Linked DNA regions of Homo sapiens: region 2 is linked to region 1. Evidence: fine-mapped expression QTL. A gene starts in region 1. The other region holds a variant in brackets. All regions are shown on one strand. Distances are from middle to middle. Region 1 holds the start of LPCAT1 (lysophosphatidylcholine acyltransferase 1). Region 2 overlaps LPCAT1 (lysophosphatidylcholine acyltransferase 1).

Region 1 (9,548 bases):
TGGCCTTCTCCATCCTCCCCAAGGGACAGGCACTCTCCTGCACATCCTCCACAGGGTGTGGCTGCCCTGTGCTCCCACCGGGTACACTGCCCAGGGCTCCTTGGCCCACCCCACCCCTCCACATCCACTGCCCGGCAATGGGGCTGAGCGAAGAGCCAGTCTTACTGAATCCAGGCAGGCAGCACCCAGGGACCCAGTGGGCAGCAGGAGCAGCTCAGAGAAGCCTGAGGAACCCCCATCCCCGTGCATGTGTGCCTGGAGGGCACCAAGGGTCAAGAACACACTGCAAACACAGCCATCCACGTGAGGAGCCTGGCAACGTGTGCAGGCACACGAATTCCTGTTCTGCAGTGGCCATGCTGGACTCAGGAGCGAGGCTGAGAGGGCGGAGTCCTGCTCCTGAGTTTTTTTAAAAAATCACAACTCAGGTATTTGTATAAAAATGTGGAGAAAAAGATGGCCCACTTTTGGGTAAATTCTATGCAGGGCCACCAGGCAGGGAGGGGCAGAATCTGTCCCTGGACTCAACCCTCATCATAATCCTCTCTGTGGATTAGCCAGCGTGGGCAGGCGGGCACCCAGCAGCCTCCTCCACTCTGAGACAGCAACGCCCGTCCAAGGACTCAGCTCCAAGGTGCACAGGAAGGCATTATGCTTTCCAGGATGTAAGTTCTTGCCAACTCTGGTTCCGAGCAGCAGAGACTTTAGAAATGGGGAAAATGGGCCGGGCGCGGTGGTTCACGCCTGTAATCCCAGCACTTTGGGAGGCCGAGGCGGGAGGATCACAAGGTCAGGAGATCGAGACCATCCTGGCTAACACGGTGAGACCCCATCTCTACTAAAAATACAAAAAAAAATTAGCCGGGCATTGTGGCGGGCGCCTGTAGTCCCAGCTACTCGGGAGGCTGAGGCAGGAGAATGGCGTGAACCCGGGAAGCAGAGCTTGTAGTGAGCCGATATCGCACCTCTGCACTCCAGCCTGGGCGACAGAGAGAGACTGTCTCAAAAAAAAAAAAAAAAAAAGAAAAAGAAAAAGAAAAAAAAAAGAAATGGGGAAAACGCATCAGAACCATAGTGGGAAATACTCATACCCACAGATTCCAAGGAAAGTACCGAGAAAACCCTGGGTGACAGAAACCACTTCATGACTCCAAAACGATATATGAATGTGTGACTATGAAGAACCTCAGCTGAACTCACTAAGATCCTGTACCATACCATTTACCGCTCTCTACTAAATCTATATCCTTGCTTTAGCCAGAGGATTAAAACATTGCACGTATTACAGACCCTGATGGCTTTGATACCTCTTTTCAGATCTTAATGTGCTGTTTTCTGTCCAAAGAGATACTTAAGCTCCTCACTAAATCTGTAGTTAAATGACAGATGGGCTGGCTGGAGGAGGAGGTGTCCCCGCATGGCGCTAATCCGAAGACACACAGCAGCCCCTCCCAGGCGGCAAATGCTCACAGGTAAATGCAGGTACTCACTGGTTTATCTCAACTGGGAACTTAGCTGGGTTTCTGCGGGTTCTTGAGTGTGTCAGCCACTACTGGACCCATTTCTTTCTTTGGGGAAGAAGGCTTTCTTGGCTTGAAAGACAGGCTATTTCACTCTGTGGAAACTTTACAAGAATATATCACATCAAAGTAAAAGCTTTGCAAAGCAATGCTTGGTGAAAAGCAAAATGTTTCTGCAGAGAACTTTGAGAACGTTTACAAACTAAACCCTTGAGCCACACATTGCAGACATCCAGCAGAAACGACTGGATGTACAAACACACCTAATTCCTCAGATGGAACCTCTGAAGTGGCAACAAAGCAAGCCCCCTCTCTGAGAGGCCCCAACACCTCAAGCCAGGATCTCTGCCTGGCTTCGGCCCAAGGGAGAACAGCTGCCCAAAGCCTTCAATCTCGGGACCAGGAGCCTCTCGATGACCCCCTGCCCAAGAGCCACTGGGAGCAGCTTGCACCCTGAGGTCTCGGGGAGGAAAGCAGGCCCCTCTGGGCACTCTGGCAGTGCCCTGACATCTGTACCTACCCATGAGAGTCTCTGCCCTGCTTCTCGCCAGGGCAGTGGGTGCACACTTTTGGACAGAACACACCTCAACCGGGGGCTGCAACTATGACAGGGATGACGAAGTGGCCTCCGGGGACCTCCAGGGAGGGGCTTGATGTTTCCCCCCAGGGAGCCAGGAGGGAGTAGGAAAGGCAGGAAGAGAGAGCATGCCTGAGGCAGCCATAGCTGGGGCAGGAGCAGGGCTGGGGAAGCCCTGGAAACCACAGCAGGGGTTCGAATTTCATCCGGGGGCGTCCCCGCTGAGGGCTTCCGAGCAGCAGAGTGCAGGAGGAAGAAAGCCTGCTGGGAGTGACTCAGGGAGAGTGACCAGGGAGAGAGCCTGGTGGCTGGGTGGGGGTGAGGATTGAAGAGGAGGAATGGTTGAGGGGCACAGAATGAGCGACCGTGTCCCAAGTCCTCCTTTGAGGGGCACAGCACACGGCAGCTGACAGCGTGTGGCAGACAGAGGGCCAGGCAGAGCGGCGGCAGAGGGGCCGGCACCGCCCCAGCCCCAGAGTCCAGCTCCCGACACACAGGGAGACGGGGGCCAGGGCCTGGGAGCCAGGCTGGGGACGACCTCACCCTGTGTGTCACCAGGAGGGGCGGCACCATCGGGCTCTCCTGCTCCCCGTCCCCTTCCATACCCTGAGGACCAGCCGCATCAAGGGGCTTTGAGCAAAAGCAGGCGTCCTGGGAAAATGACAAGCTCAAACTGGCCTCAAGAACTTTTCACTTCAGGGTTCTTTCAGATAAAGTACTTTATGCATTAACAAATCTCCATCTTCCCGGAAATCTATTCTCACAATTGGAAGCGTGCTCCCTACAAACCGGACAGCCCCATAGGCCCCGAAACAGTGCTTGCTTCTAGGAATTATTCTAGAGTCAAAAGTAAGGTCCTCTTGAGAGTGGATCTCAGGTAACTGTAAGCCCAGCTGGCAGCCAGGTAGCCGGAAAAGCCAGGCTGAGCCAGCACATCCCCGGTGCAGCTTCCTGCAGCGAGCGGCCCCCTCCCCACGACGCCCCCGGGTCTCCCCTCACCACTGTCCCATCGCAGGATCTCAGCAAACCGTTCCCTCCCACGTGGCAGCCCAGGTTGCATAAAGTTGATTCGGGTCAGACCAGCCCCGAGAAAGCATCCCTTACAACAGGAGCGAAGCATGCACCCCAGAAGGCAACGTGCGGCCGCAGAGCAGGGAGACCCGTGCGCCTACAGGGGACCCTACAGGGGACCCGCACCGCCCGCGCGCCCTGTCCCGGGCACCACCAGGCCCCGCACACGAGGCTCACCCAGAGCCGCGGTGCCCTCCCGCCCGCGGGCCGCGTCCAGGCAAAGCCGCTCCGGAGTCCCCGGGCTGCGCGCAGGGCCTGCCAAGGCGGGCGGGGCCCGGACCAGGGACGAGCGCGGGGACCGGCGATGCGGGTCCAGCCTCCCGCGGGAGCCGAGGTCGGGGCTCTGGGAGGCAGAGAAAGGGTTGTGGGCCCGGTTCAGGGTGCAGGGGTCTGGGGGGAGGAGCAGAACGCGGGGCGGGGATGGGAAGCGGGGACCCCGAGGAAGGCGCTGAGGGACCAGGATGCGCGTGCGGGCGGCGGGAAGCCGGCGCCGAGACCGAGGCATCGGGTGCGGGCGGCGGGGACGCGAACTGAGGGGCGGCCGCGGGGAGGGAAGGCGCCGCGGCTCGCAGGGCCGCGCCGCGCCCCAGGCCCCCTCCCCGGCCCCTCCTCGGCCGCGCCTCCCTGGCCCCAGCATCCCTGGCGTCCGCGCCGGCTCCCGGGGCCGCGCGCCCTGGGCACCCACCTGGGCCTTCTGCAGGGCGCTGAGGCGCAGCTCGTGCACGAAGGGGTTCCGCCCCGGGGGCGCCAGCAGCCGAGCGTCGCTGGCCCCTGCGCTGGAGGCAGGGGCGGCCCGGGGTCCGCATCCCCGCAGCCTCATGGCCGCGCCGTCCCGCGGCGAGCGCAGCCGAGCTGCCTGGGGCGCCGAGCGGGGCCGGGGCTAGCTGGGCGCGGGTCTCGGGGCGCGGGCCGAGGATGCGCGGCGGCTGGAGCGGGCCGGGCGCGCAGGCGCGGGAGGTGACGTGGGCGGAGCGGGAGCGCCGGCCGGGGCGGGGCGTCCCTGGAAGCCTCGCCTCCCGCCGGCCGGCAGGGGCGGCACCAGCCGGAGTTCCGCTACCTGGTGGTTTCTCTGGGGTCTGTGGGGGGCCGGGGCCGCTGGGGACCGGGGGCGCCTCCTGCAGCCACTGGAGCACAGGGATCCCCGGCAGGGTCTGCGCCAGGAGAAAGGGAGGTCCCCCGGGCCCGCGAGGCTGCCACGTCGTCCCCTTCCGCCGCTCGGCCCGCCTGCTCGCGGGGAGGGAGGAAGGGGCGGGCACGCGTCCAGCTTACGCGCAAGGCGGGCCAGGCCCTGGGTGCCGAGCCCCGGGCTGTTCCGGCGAAGGCCCCACGCCATTCTTCTTATTCGTTGGGCTCCTAGCTCGCACCGGCGACCCTGGAAGCTGCCCCGGGCTGAGGGAGCTTCTTCCAGCCGCGCCTCAGCCCAGGCGACTCCCGCCTGAGGTCCACTCGACCTTAGGACCCCCCAGACCTCGGGATCCCCTCAGATCTCAGGACCCCTCAAGCCTCAGGACCCCCTCAGACCTCAGGACCCCTCCGATCTCAGGACCTCTCAGGCCTCAGGCCCCGCAGGGATGGCCCAGGCAGGAGGCGCACATAGGGGCCCTGACTGTCCGTGCTGGTTGTGCAGGGGCTGCGATGAGATCCCAGCGCTTTCTCACCCGTAGCTGCTTTGGCTCGGGCATTGCCCTTGTGGTGCTCAGGAGCCGTGTGAGGAGCCCCAGGGTGGGGCCCATAATTAGCCGGAGCGAGAGTAGGATGGGCTCCTGCCTCCGGGTGAACACGCTTGGATTTCAGAACTCACGCAGGCCTTCGGTCACAGTGCTCACGGCTTCCTCACCCCGGCTGGCCCTGTTGGTTCCTTCATGGCCAACGGACCTCACCCAGACAGAGCCGGTTTGGGCCACCTGGCCAACCCCCCAGGGTCCTGGCTCCTGGGGATGTCACTGCTGTGTTGGCCCCAGCTGGGCCCCATCCTCAGCAGACGCCAGGGAGTGCCCCGACCCCTCCAATGACCCTGCCTGCGCCCTTGTGGACCTCATAGTGCAGCGGGCTGGCAGAGACCCTTCTGTGTCTGAGACCGGGGTGAGGGCCAGGGGTCTGTGCCATCCACATATCATGCACAGAGAAGGCCCCGGCAGGCCAGACCCGCTGCATGGCCTTATTCCTGCCCCATAAGAGTCCCAGCCCATATTCCTGCCCCATAAGAGTCCCAGCCCATGCCTAGCAGCAGCACCTGTCCCAAGTGCCACACCCACGGGGATGGGGTGAGCCCTGTGTGCTGGTGGGCATTGGTGGCTCTGTGGCCCAGCCACCAGCGTTGCACCCACCTCCTGGGCTTTTAGTGGCCACTTGCTCTGATCCCCAAAACCAGAGCCCAGCACCCGAGGCCACCCAAGGCTCCTCACCGAACTGATCATCAAGAAAGCCCAGGACACAAAGCCTGCCAGCCACAGGGCAGCACCTGCACCCCAGCGATCCAGGCGGCCCCACCTGCTGCCTGAGTGCTCTGGAGAGGAGGGGCCCTAGGGTGTCCCAGTCCTGGGATGAGAGCAGCCTCAGGACTGGACTTGGAGAGCCATGAAAGTGGGGTCCTCCCAGAAGCACAGGCCAGGAAGCGGTGTGTGGCGGAGGGGAAACCTGCTGGAGATGGTGCAGAGCCAGATTCAATGGGGAGAGCTGCCAGAGAGTCATGGCTGTGTCCCCAGAAGATGCAAAAGTCCTAACCCACAGCACCTGTGGCCGCGACCTTATTTGGAAACAGGGTCTTTGCAGATGATCAGGTTAAGAGGAAGTCATTAGGGTGGGCCCTAGTCTGAAATGGCTTGTGTCCCTATAGAGAGGGAGATTCGGTCTCAGAGACAGACACAGAGAGAGCTCCATGGGAAGGCCAGGGTTCTGCTGCTACAGGCAAGCAGTTCCCAGGAGCTGGAGAGGCCTGGAGCAGGTCCTCTCTAGTGCTCTCAGAGGGAGCCTAGGCCTAGGGTGCCATGATCGCAGGCTTCTGGCCTCCAGACTGGGAGAGAATAAATTCCTTCTGCTTTAACCTGCAGAGTGCAAAGTGAGTTGGAACCCAGGGAAGGAGGTGGGGAGGCTGGGGGAAGAACCTCATACTGCCCGGCAATCTAAGCAGGGTCAGCAGGTTGTCCTTGAGCCAAGGTCGGTGGAAAGAGGAGTCCCTCTCCCAGAGGGGTCTTAGGTGGAGCCACTGTGGGCAGCGTGGCCTTGGTGTAGAAGCTCAGTGGATCCTTGGGTCACAGGCACCATGTGGAGGAGGCGCAGAGGCCCAGCTCCGGGGTCAGTACACAAGGGGGCACAGCTGGGAGGGTGGGTGTGACAGGGCCAAGGGCTGTGCAGAGCAGGGGGCAGGACTGGGGCACACTCGTCCTCACCAAGCAGAACCCAAGAAGGCCCCAGAGAGCGGCCAAGGAGCGGAGGTCCCCAGAGGGGCTGAGTCCACGGAACTGCCCCATCCAGGAGGACTGGCCAGGAGAGAACTGGGAAGGCCAGCCAGTGGTAGTAGCAAGGGTGGAGACCACCACCCTGCAGGGTGCTGTGGAGTGGGCAGGAGTTACAGAGGTTCTTTCCCAGCTACCTGAGAAAGGAGGAAGCGTGATGGGCAGGAGGAGGAAAATGGATGCTTGGCGGGAGGCTGGGATCCAGGGCAGCAGCTCAAGGAAGGGGCCCAGGACATGTTCCTGGGTGGAAGGCAACAGGCCAGCCTCACAGGAGACGTTGAAAACCCCTGTGAGAGGGGGTGTCATGGGCCCATCTCAGTCTGGAAGGATTCTGCGCTCAGAGGAAGGAAAGGCCTGGGGCCCGGAGCGGGGACTCCTTCTCTGCTGCAGCTGGAAGGGGTTGGATGGTCCACAGGGCACGTGCCCAGGGGGTGGGGAGCTGGGGCACTCTTGTGTGTGGGAGTCAGTTTTCTCCTGGGGACTGCGAGGGGTGGGGGAGAGGGGCTGCTTATGGGGAAATCAGCGCAAGCGTGGAGGAGCAGCAAGGAAATTCCTCCACCCACACTGGGCCTTCACACTTAGGCTTTGGTTCTGCTATGTAATGGAACGTTCTTAAGACCTGGAGGGTCTGGAAGCTTGACTAAGAGAAGTTGGTCTTGGGTGGGGAGGTATAAGCAGTTTTCTCTGTCTAGCAGGGGAAACATGAGTTTCTCATTAGGACTTAGTTTTGGGAAAACCACCCTAAGGGCCCTTTAGCTACAAAGGGAGCCCCCACTGTGGTTCTCAGGAACCTCCTGGAAGCCCCCCACAGCTCCCTGGGGCTGGTAACCACACCCCTGAGGCTTCTTGCTCTGGTTTTGTCTCTGTTTTAAGAGTGTAAGCTCACAGAGAAGTGTTTCCTATACTCCAAGTGCATTGAGAACACAAGGTACCTGCTTGTTCTGGTAAGGCTGAGTATTTTTGTTTTGTTTGTTTAATTTTTGAATTTTAGAGTTATCTATAGGATAGAAAAAGATATTCTCCTTCATTTTCTACTAACATCTTTTTTCAGTTCTGCCTTTCATGGTTGCATTTTATTCTATTTGAAGATTTTTTTCTCTGCATGGAGACCTGATATTCTCAACACCACGTATCAATCACAGACTCCCACTTGTGGGTCCACTTCCAGCATGAACAGAAAGAAGGGTTCCTGAAGCTCCTTCTGGCTGCCCCATCTCACCCATTGGTCCGTGTACTCCTTTACTCCCGTCTCACCCGCCGGTCCGCGTACTCCTTTACTCCTGTCTCACACCTTTCAACCGTCTGCCTTAGTAACTGTAGAGGGGGTTCCTTCCTGTTGGCGCTTCTTCCCAAGAATTGTAGTAGGAATTCAGGGAATTTTATTTTTCCATCCAAATTTTGGAAGCAGTTGTCCCCATTGCTAAAAATTCCCGCTGGAAGCTTCCTTTTGAATCACATTAATTGTACAGGGTACTTCAGTAAGAATGTTACTTCATTCTTACTGTTCATTCTCCCTGTTCCCTAAGAATGTTACTTCAGTAAGAGCTGGCTGGTCCTGGGAGGGGCCCTCGAAGGGCCAGCAAGGCTCCAAGGCTCCAAGGCTTCAAAGCACTAGAAAATACAAAAAAAAAATTTTTTAAATGGATGATGTGGCATGGACACTTTATAATTTTGAGAACGATTTTTCACCAACATGGTTATTCTACCATTTATTTAGATGTTCTTTCATGCCCTTTGATAGCATTTTAAATTTTTCTACATAAAGATTCTGTATTTTTGTTAATTCCTTGATGCTTCATACTTCTGCAGTGATGTAATAATCGTTTCAAAAATTACTCTTGGGCCGGGCGCGGTGGCTCATGCCTGTAATCTCAGCACTTTGGGACGCCGAGGTGGGCGGATCATCTGAGGTCAGGAGTTCGAGACCAGCCTGGCCAACATGGCAAAACCCCATCTCTACTAAAAATATGACAATTAGCCAGGTGTGGTGGCACACGCCTGTAGTCCCAGCTACCCGGGAGGCTGAGGCAGGAGGATTGCTTGAACCTGGGAGACAGAGGTTGCAGTGAGCCAAGATCACGCCACTGTACTCCAGCCTGGGCAAGAACAGAGCGAGACTCTCTTTCAAAAAAAAAAATTACTCTTGACAGTATGGATTATATGGAGAACCACTACTGCTTGTGTAGAGGTTGTATGAAGACAGACCCCAGGGTACAAGAGGACCTGTGGATGTTCCAGATGAGGAGTGCACAGCCCCAGAGTGAGGGACTCCATCATGTACAATGGATGGACTTCCTATTCAACCCACAATCATGACAAACAGAAAATTGTGGTGGTTTTCAGTCACTACAGACTGAGATGGTTTGTTAAGCAGTGATAGTGTCTTTCAAAGAGCAGATATTTTAAATTTTGATGAAGTCCAATTTATCAGCGTTTTCTTTTAGGGATCATGGTTTTGGTATCCTCTTTTATAAATATTTACCTGCATCAAGGTCATTCAGATTTTCTTACTTCAGAAGTTTTACAGTTTTGGCTTTACCATTTAGGTCTGTATTCCATTTCAAGTTGACATTTGTACACGGCATAAAGTAAAGTGGAGGCAGAGGTTTTTTAGTTTCAAATGTTTTCGTCTGAATATTCAACTGTTTCGGCACCATTTGTTGAAGAGAATATTCTTTCTCCATTGAACTACCTTGACAACTTTGTAAAAAAATTAAGTGGCCATATATGTATAGTTGAGTCTATTCCTGGACTCTGTATTTTGTTCCATGGATCTGTACATCTGCAACTGCCAACATCACACTATACTGATTACTAAAGCTTTATATTAGTCTTGAAATTAGACTGCACTGCACTGGAGTGCAGTGGCCCGATCTCGGCTCACTGCAGACTCCGCCTCCTGAGTTCAAGCGATTCTCCTGTCTC
Region 2 (8,000 bases), 31 kb before region 1:
AGGGCTACGTGCATTACCTGTGGCCACTTTCCGTTGGACTGCGCCCGTCTCTTGATTTCTTCTACTGTTTTCCTGCGAGAATCCTGGTCTGACCGGGACACGAACACAGGCCGTATATACTGGATCAGAGCTGGAAGAGAGGAGGGGAGACGGATCACGTGGAATGCACGGCTCCCGCCAGGCAGGGCTGAGGAACGAGGGGGCTGCTGCATGGCGCCCAGTGGGGCGGGAGACTCCAGATGCCCCAGGGGCTGTGCCATGGGTGGGCTGTGAGTCCCTGACTGAGGGAACGGGAACAGCACCCGGGCTTCCCATGTCTGTGACAGCAGGAAGCCCTGTAGCCTCAGTGCCACAAGTAACAAACAGCAAGTCCATGGCACCCACTGAGGACACGGAGCACAGAACGGAGGTCAATGAAAGACAACCGCCAGGAAGCAGAAAGTCTTTAGACCCAGTCTTCACAGAGGACAGGGTTGAAGGTGCCAGGTCCCTAGATTGGACCCCGCCTTCCCCCTGTGGGTTGAACTGCATCCCCTAAAAGACAAGCTGAAGTCCTCACTCCTGGTACCGGGAATGGGACCTCATTTCGAAACAGGTGGTAGCAGATGCTCAAGGTCCCGGATGAGGGTCCCTATGGGAAGAGGAGACAAAGCAGATGCTCAAGCTAAAATCCCAGATGAGGGTCCCTATGGGAAGAGGAGACGAAGAGGGGGAGAGAAGGCCAATGATGAAGGAGGCCATAGGAGGATGTGGCCACAGCCCCCACCACGAGCCGGGAGGGCCGAGGGAGCTTTCAGAAGAGCCCAATGCGGCCAGCACTTTGTTCTGGCACTTCTGCTTTTAGACGGCGGGAGAATATGCTCCTGTTGTTCTAAGCCACCAGCTTTGTGGTGCTTTGTAGCACAGCCCCAGTTTAACCATGGCACCCCACAGCCTCCTGGAAGTTGCGGGGTTGGGGTACAAGGGACACCCCGCCATGAAGGCTGGTGCTCAGCCAAGGCAACGTGGCCACGGCACCTGTCTTTATGCAAGAGGATTGAACGTGGAAACATACTTCTTAGAAGAGAAAACTCTGAAGACTTTAAAATGAAACTATCCCTGAGTGGAGCTTCCTTTTTGAGGACGGTGAGCAGGATCCACACTCGGCGCCCCCCAGGCCAACTGAAGGTGTCTCTGACCCCACCACGGGCTCCTAGGCTGCTGCAGGTCAGCCCCACCTCCCCACCCCAGTTCAGTTTCCAGTTTCTTTTCTTAGCGTTTTTATTACTTGTAAGGAGTAGCATTTCATGACTTTTATTCTTTCTTGGAGGTTCTCTCCTCCAAGAACGAGAAAATTGAAGCCAAAAAAAGAAAATTCCTTCTATCCTGTGGTTGTCTGTTGGGTCTCTGTGGTCTTTCCTATGTCTTGAATCATTTTGCTTTTTCACGATTCCAGTACTATTTCATCCTTGCTCATTGGTTATTCCCAACTCTGCTAAAAAGGACGATATCGGAAGGGAAGAATGGCGGAGTCGTCTCGCAGGATGGCGCACGCGTCAAAGAAATGGCCCTGATTGCGTGGTCTTTCGGTGCCCACTGTTTTGGCCAAAGCGTCCCATGGTCGTCCCGGGGCACACGGGGTCTGGAGATGCCACCCTGCCACCTTCGCAATCCTGTCAGCTGGTTTGTTTTGTGAACAGAGTAGAGATTTCAGAAGTTGTCTATAACGGCAAAGAACAGAACAGTGACGTGGGGGCGTTTCACACTCAGATGGGTCCGGGGGTAAATGTGGGGGGTGCAGGGGGAGGACTCTGAGTGAAGTCTTGGGCCGTGCGTCTTCATGTGGGTTGCCCGGTGTGCCTTTCACGCTGAGAACTGGGCAGTGAGGACAGCAAGGAGATGCAGCTCCTCCCCGGGAGCCCTGAGGAGGGAAGGGTGTCACCACGCCGTGTGCACAGCCACACTGGGACTGGCGCATTTTGCCAGCAAGAAGGTGACAGCGTTCTGCCGTCTTTTGGGCATTTGAGGCTCAAACTTTCCTTGACAAGGTTTGTAAATGGATGGTGCGGATATGAAGGTCACTGAAAGGAAACTAAGAATGTGAAAAGGAAAAAATCTACCTGGTTGATCACTTTCATTGGTATTCATACATCTAAAAATGAAAATATTTTGAACATTTTCAACATTCATCTCTTCAACAAAGTTGTGAGCTGTCAAAGGGTCCACGAAAGGAACCAGAAGTCACCACAAGCTGGGACCGGGGAGATGTCTCTGAGCTGGAAACCTGGGAGACGTCTCTGAGCTGGGACCAGGGGAGATGTCTCTGAGCTGGAAACCAGGGAGATGTCTCTGAGCTGGGACCATGGGAGATGTCTCTGAGCTGGAAACCAGGGAGATGTCTCTGAGCTGGGACCAGGGGAGATTATCTCTGAGCTGGGACCACGGGAGATGTCTCTGAGCTGGAAACCTGGGAGATGTCTCTGAGCTGGGATGGGGGAAGATTATCTCTGAGCTGGGACAAGGGGAGATGTCTCTGAGCTGGAGCCTGGGGAGATGTCTCTGAGCTGGGGCCTGGGGAGATGTCTCTGAGCTGGGGCCTGGGGAGACGTCTCTGAGCTGGGGCCTGGGGAGACGTCTCTGAGCTGGGACCTGGGGAGATGGTTTTGAGCTGGAGCCTGGGGAGATGGTTCTGAGCTCCCGAATCAGAGGGTGCTCCAGGTGCGCAGTAGAGGAGTCATCAGCCACGCCCCAGGACAATGGCCCTTTCAGGCCAGGACAGCAGGGAGCAAAATGTGGTTCCTGCTAAGTCTGAATTCTAACGAAAATTTCTGATAAGCTTGTCACTATCCTCTCCCTCGCAGGTCCGTGGATTATCTCTGAAATGACAAGAAACACGCAGGGCTCCACGAGGGCCCTGCACACAGCAGCATGGCTGTGGCCATTCTTCCTGCTGCGCCGAGATGAAGGTCAGTGCTGGGTCACCTGGGTTGATCTGGAAGAGGTGGAATCCCGGGCCTCTAGAAAGATAGGACTACAACGTCCAGCATCACCGCACCAAACACTCCTTCGTGTTGGTGATCTCCACAGGGAGGCACCAAGGGCACAGGGAGAGCCCGGCCAACGCTCAGATTCACTCTGGGTGGGCCAGCCCCCCTGTCCAAGGACCCCTGCAGCTGCGAGGGTGCCTGGGCACACAGCTCCACAATCCCCCTCCCTGAGCAGATGACGAACGACCATGGGCCTTTGCCACAGTGGGGGGGCAAATGTGGTTTCCTGGGTATGCCAGAACCACAGGATGCAAAGGGTGCTGAGTGGAGCTGGGGCTGCCCCATGAGCCTGTGGAGCTTGCAGAGCGGGGAAACCTGCGTGTGAGAGCCAAGGCCATCACTCGGATGGTGCCTGCAGTCCAGTCTCGCCTCCAGTGCCGGCCTGTCCAGCCTCCTCCAGGCTTCCCCAGCCAGCCGAGTGCAGTGAGCCCTCCAGTCCCACCAAGGACCATCCCCGATTTCCAAGCCTGACCCAGGCAGACTCAGGCCACCCACAACTGCCCAGCTGCAGGCACAGTCTGGACACCTTCCGGCTGCTGCAGGCCCAATCCCCCATGGGCCATGCCAGGGTTCCTCACCCCACTTCCAGCCTTCCTATCCCAGCTGTGGCCACCACCCTCAGTGGTCAGCACCACAGAATGTGTCCCCACCCAGTCCATACTGAATGTGTCCCCCCAGATATTTTCTAGAAAACTGTCATATGAATGCTAACGTTAGGTGCTGCATGGAAACAGAGCCGGCAGGAGTGGCCAGGTGAGGGCCCCGGCCATAGGCGACGCCCCTCGTCCCAGCAGCTCCTTCCCTCAGCACCGCCCACTGCCAACCCAGGACCCGCTGTGCCCCAGAACGTGCTGTGCTGTGCTGATGGCGGCTGTGAAGGAAGCACGAGGACAGAACGGGCCCAGATGCCCTGAAGAGCACCGAGGACAGAGCTCTGGTGGGTCAGGGCTGCGCACAGGTGGGTGAGGGGCCACGCAGGGCTCCCTACAGTCCTCCCAGAGCAGTGGGTCCATGGGATGCGGCCCCCAAAGATGGGTCCACATGCTGACCCTGGAACCTGTGAATGAGGCCTTATTTGGAAAAAGGTTTTTACAGAGGTAACTCGTTAAGGATCTCAAGATGAGAGCATCCTGGATCACCCAATGACTGGTCCTTATAAGAGACTCATAGAGGAGACACTTGGAGGGAGCCAGGCCAGTCGACCACTGAGGCAGAGTCAGAGGGACGCAGCCCCCAGAGGAGGAAGAGGCAGGAAGGGGCCGCACAGGGCCTTCGGCCCAGAGACGCCTTGATTTTGAACATCTGGTCCCCAGATGACGAGAGGGTGAATCTCTGCTGGAGTGAGCCCCCGGCTTTGGGGAGGGGTCATGGCAGCACCAGGTGCTCAGGTCCCTGGTTCACGGCACAGCCGCGGTGCATGGGCAGCCCTGCCGACCTGCTCCCAAAGACTTCCAGAACTGCCATCTGATAAAGGTGAGCCACCCTTGCCAAGCAGACCTGGAGCAAGCACTGTAGCCTGTTATGATAGTGAGGGCACTCAGGTAGCAATAAAAATAACAATTACAACAACGAAAATTACACAGGAAACCCCAACACAGAAAATGGGGCACAAGGCCAATGTGCCCGGCGGTGGGGGCTCGATCACTCCCAGCAGCGTGGTGG[G/T]GGGGGGGTCCCTCACTCCCGGTAGGGAGGGTCTCACTCATTTCCAGCAAGTGGGGGTCCCTCATTCCTAGCAGGGAGGGATCTCTCATTCCCAGAAGGGGGGGTCCCTAAAAACCAGCAGGGAGTCCCTCATTGCCAGCAACAGAGGGGGTCTCACTCATTCCCAACAGAGGGGGGACCCTCACTCCCAGCAGGAGGGGAATCTCTTATTCTCAGCAGCAGGGGGATCTCTCACTCCCAGCAGGGCAGGGTCCCTCACTCCCAGCAGGGGTGTCTCACTCACTTCCCCAGATCGGGATGTCTCTGCTCTCTGCCTTCATCACGATGGAGGACATCGTCATGGTCACAGGGATGGCGTCGAAGTAGGACGAGTGAGGCGCGAGCGTGAGGATGGCCGCCTCGGTGGGCAGCGCCTGCCGCCCCTTCACGGCCACCCGGTGGAAGCCGCCGGCGAACCACATGGTGCGCATGATGGCCTTCAGCAGGAAGTCCACAACCCTGCAAAAGAGGGCGCTGCGTCACGCGGGCACACGTCCGCAGTCTCGGAGTCTGTGTGAGGCACAGGGGCGGTCCCACGGGAGAGCCCTCCAGGGCGCAGTCCAGGCCACGGGCTTCCTGTGGTCGCCGCCGCTGGGACATCTGCTTGAGGGAAGAAAAGACGCCGCGCCTTCCTGGCCTCCGCCTGTGTCCTCGCTGGCTGCGCTCTCACCTACGAAGGAGGCCGCGGGGCCCTGTGTGGTGGTCACGGGCCACGCGGCAGGCAGTGCTAAGACAACATGAGACTCCGGAACACAGACAGCACAAGTCCCAGGCCAGAAGACCTCCGGACCTTCATGTTAGCAACTTATTTATCAGCATCCTATCATTTTGAAATGGGAAAAACATTAAAACACCTAAAACGCATATCGCAATATGGGGGGGGGGGCGCTCAGAGCTGAGGGCGGAAGCTGAGACCTGCGTGCGAACTTCCCCATCTCATCTCCACAGGAAGCCCGGGGTTCCCACAACCAGGCGTTGTGTTATTACAGTGAGCTGTTTCTGGAGGAAATTAGATGGCCAATAAATTTGGAAAATAAAGTAAAAATCAGCCTAGGTTAACTGAATTTGTGTACTCTTTATCTCTTTTTAAAATAGGTACAAATTTAGCCTTTTAAATGTGTGTATTCTCTTTCATATGAGGCTACAGATTAGGCTGTTATTCCACACCTCAGGGAATTGACACGCAGCAGACAGCCACGGTGTGTGAGAAGCCACAGGTCAGGCACACAGAGAACATGATTCAGCCTCATGAGAAGCCACGGCTCACTCGGCCACTGGGTTAAGTGGGCGCATCACACTGGGTAAAACTACTGCACAGAGAAACAAGAGCCTGAAGCCTTACTGGATTCACATTGCCCTGGGACAGATGATCCTCCCAGAAGACTTCCAGGACAGGGGTCCCCATGGATCTGAGCCAAGGCGGTTGCTAGGAGGGCACAAAGCCTCCTCTCGTGGGGCCACCTTGGAATGGCCTTTGTGTATGCGATGATAAACAATGGTGTAGTTACACATGGAGATGCTGGGGACCAACCCAGGGTGCTGCTTGTCTAGAGGAGGGGGGATTACACAGGTGTGCACTTCTTCACCACCTGTTCAGCTGCATATTTAAAAATGTACTTTTCTGGCCAGGCATGGTGGCTCACGCCTGTAATCACAGCACTTTGGGAGGCCAAGGCAGGTGGATCACTTGAGGTCAGGAGCTCAAGACCAGCCTGGCCAACATGGTGAAACCCTGTCTCTACTAAAAATACAAAAATTAGCTGGGCATGGTGGCAGGCGTCTGTAATCCCAGCCACTCAGGAGGCTGAGGCAGGAGAACTGCTTGAACCCAAGGGGCGGAGGTTGCAGTGAGCCGAGATTGCGCCACTGCACTCCAGCCTGGGCAACAGAGTGAGACTCCATCTCAAGAAAACTAAACTAAAAAATAAAGATGTACTCTTCTGTGCACATGTTATTTTCCACAAAAAAAAAAAAAAAGTACAAAAACAAAAGCCAAAAGACAGCAATTGATGCCTAAGATGGAAGAAACAAGGCAGCGGCGGAGGGAGAAGCGAGGCTGCAGAGGAGGCTGCGGCGGGCACAGGAGCCAGTCTCGGGCAGGTTCAGGGGCAGGAGAGAGGACAGCAGGAAAAAAGGGATTAAAACCCGGGCGGCCCTTAGAGGAACACACCTGCCAGCCCCGAAATCGAATTGCAGGGACAGACGGTGCTCAGGGGAACTGTACTGGGTGTCGGGGCAGGGAAAAAGCAGCCTCAGCTCTTCTCTAAAGATCTTGGAGGAATTTTATACCCAAACTATCCACATGTGAAAACCCGGACTGCTGGTGTGGATGACAGCCTCAGAGAAAAGCTCCGCTTGCTGTGGGGTTGGGGACCCAGCACCCACTCACCCCAAGGCAAAGGGAGCCAGCACAAGCCCAGGGTGCTCAGGTGCCTGGGCAGCCCATTCCCAGGGGAATGTGAATCAGGAGACAGATCTATCTGCATACACAGGAGCGGGGATCTCCATCAGCACCCCCAGGAAATCCACTCCGTCCTACCGCCCTCACACGGACGACACCCAAGAATCCTGAGACGTGTGAGCAGAGCAGCTGCATGGCAGAGAAGCAGAGGACTGACCCCAAGGAGACAGAAAGGGTGGGCATCAGAAGAGGGGTGCAAAACATCCACCACGCTCGCCAAGAGAGTCTGGAAGAACAGGGCGCTGAGGAGCATCAAAGAACAAGAAAACACTCTCAGAAACCAAGACTGTCACTGTGGAGACAAGCAACTCACAGGAAAGACTGGGAAATGAGGAGGAGGAAATCTCCCAGAACATGCAGGGGGAAAAGGAGGAAGGCCGCTGAGGCCTGCATCTCCTCAAGCCAGCTGGCATGTGGAGGTGGGTGGGGGAAGCCCACACGTCTAAGCGTGAGGGGCAGGCGCAGGCCCCGGCTCTGCAGGTTCCAAATGTTCTGCTGTGAGCAGAGGCAAGAGGCAGAGTGGAGCCGGCCCTGGAGAGGACCTATACACATGTACACAGCCTGAGTGCTGGCTACGGTGCCAGGCCGGTGGGGTAGGGCAAAGGAAGGGGCCCTGGGGCCACGTCTGGCGGGGCTTCAAGGAGGCAAGTCTGGTGATCCACGTGGACTGGCTTAGCTGGGTCAGGGACGGCCCCTGGGTGGCTGGTGGGAGGGCTGTGTTGGGCTGGCAGGTGTGGAGGGGCAGCCCCAGGCTGAGACGCAGGTGGCAGGAGCTGCTGGCTTCTGGGAGACCAGATAAAGTGGTTTGATGC

Evidence for each region. PIP is the estimated chance that this variant, and not a neighbour inherited with it, causes the effect.
Region 2: its variant is fine-mapped to the expression of LPCAT1 in whole blood (TOPMed, PIP 0.94).

The regions. Positions count from the first base shown.
Region 1 is chr5:1,519,857-1,529,404 of GRCh38, forward strand. It overlaps LPCAT1 (lysophosphatidylcholine acyltransferase 1), which reads right to left and starts at 4,104. Exons shown (of 14, transcript NM_024830.5): 1 at 3,854-4,104. The coding sequence starts at 3,988. RefSeq lists an enhancer at 1,627-2,131, silencers at 3,292-3,491, 3,762-4,071, 4,092-4,491 and a cis regulatory region at 5,261-5,496.
Region 2 is chr5:1,489,729-1,497,728 of GRCh38, forward strand. LPCAT1 (lysophosphatidylcholine acyltransferase 1) reads right to left here. Exons shown (of 14, transcript NM_024830.5): 3 at 4,972-5,186; 4 at 18-130. LOC124901162 (a long non-coding RNA gene) reads left to right here. Exons shown (of 2, transcript XR_007059103.1): 1 at 1-2,945; 2 at 3,744-5,791. Among named protein-coding and RNA genes, the nearest start is that of MIR6075, 17 kb to the right of the region's middle. RefSeq lists an enhancer at 4,209-5,408. The variant G/T (reference allele first, on the strand shown) is at 4,689.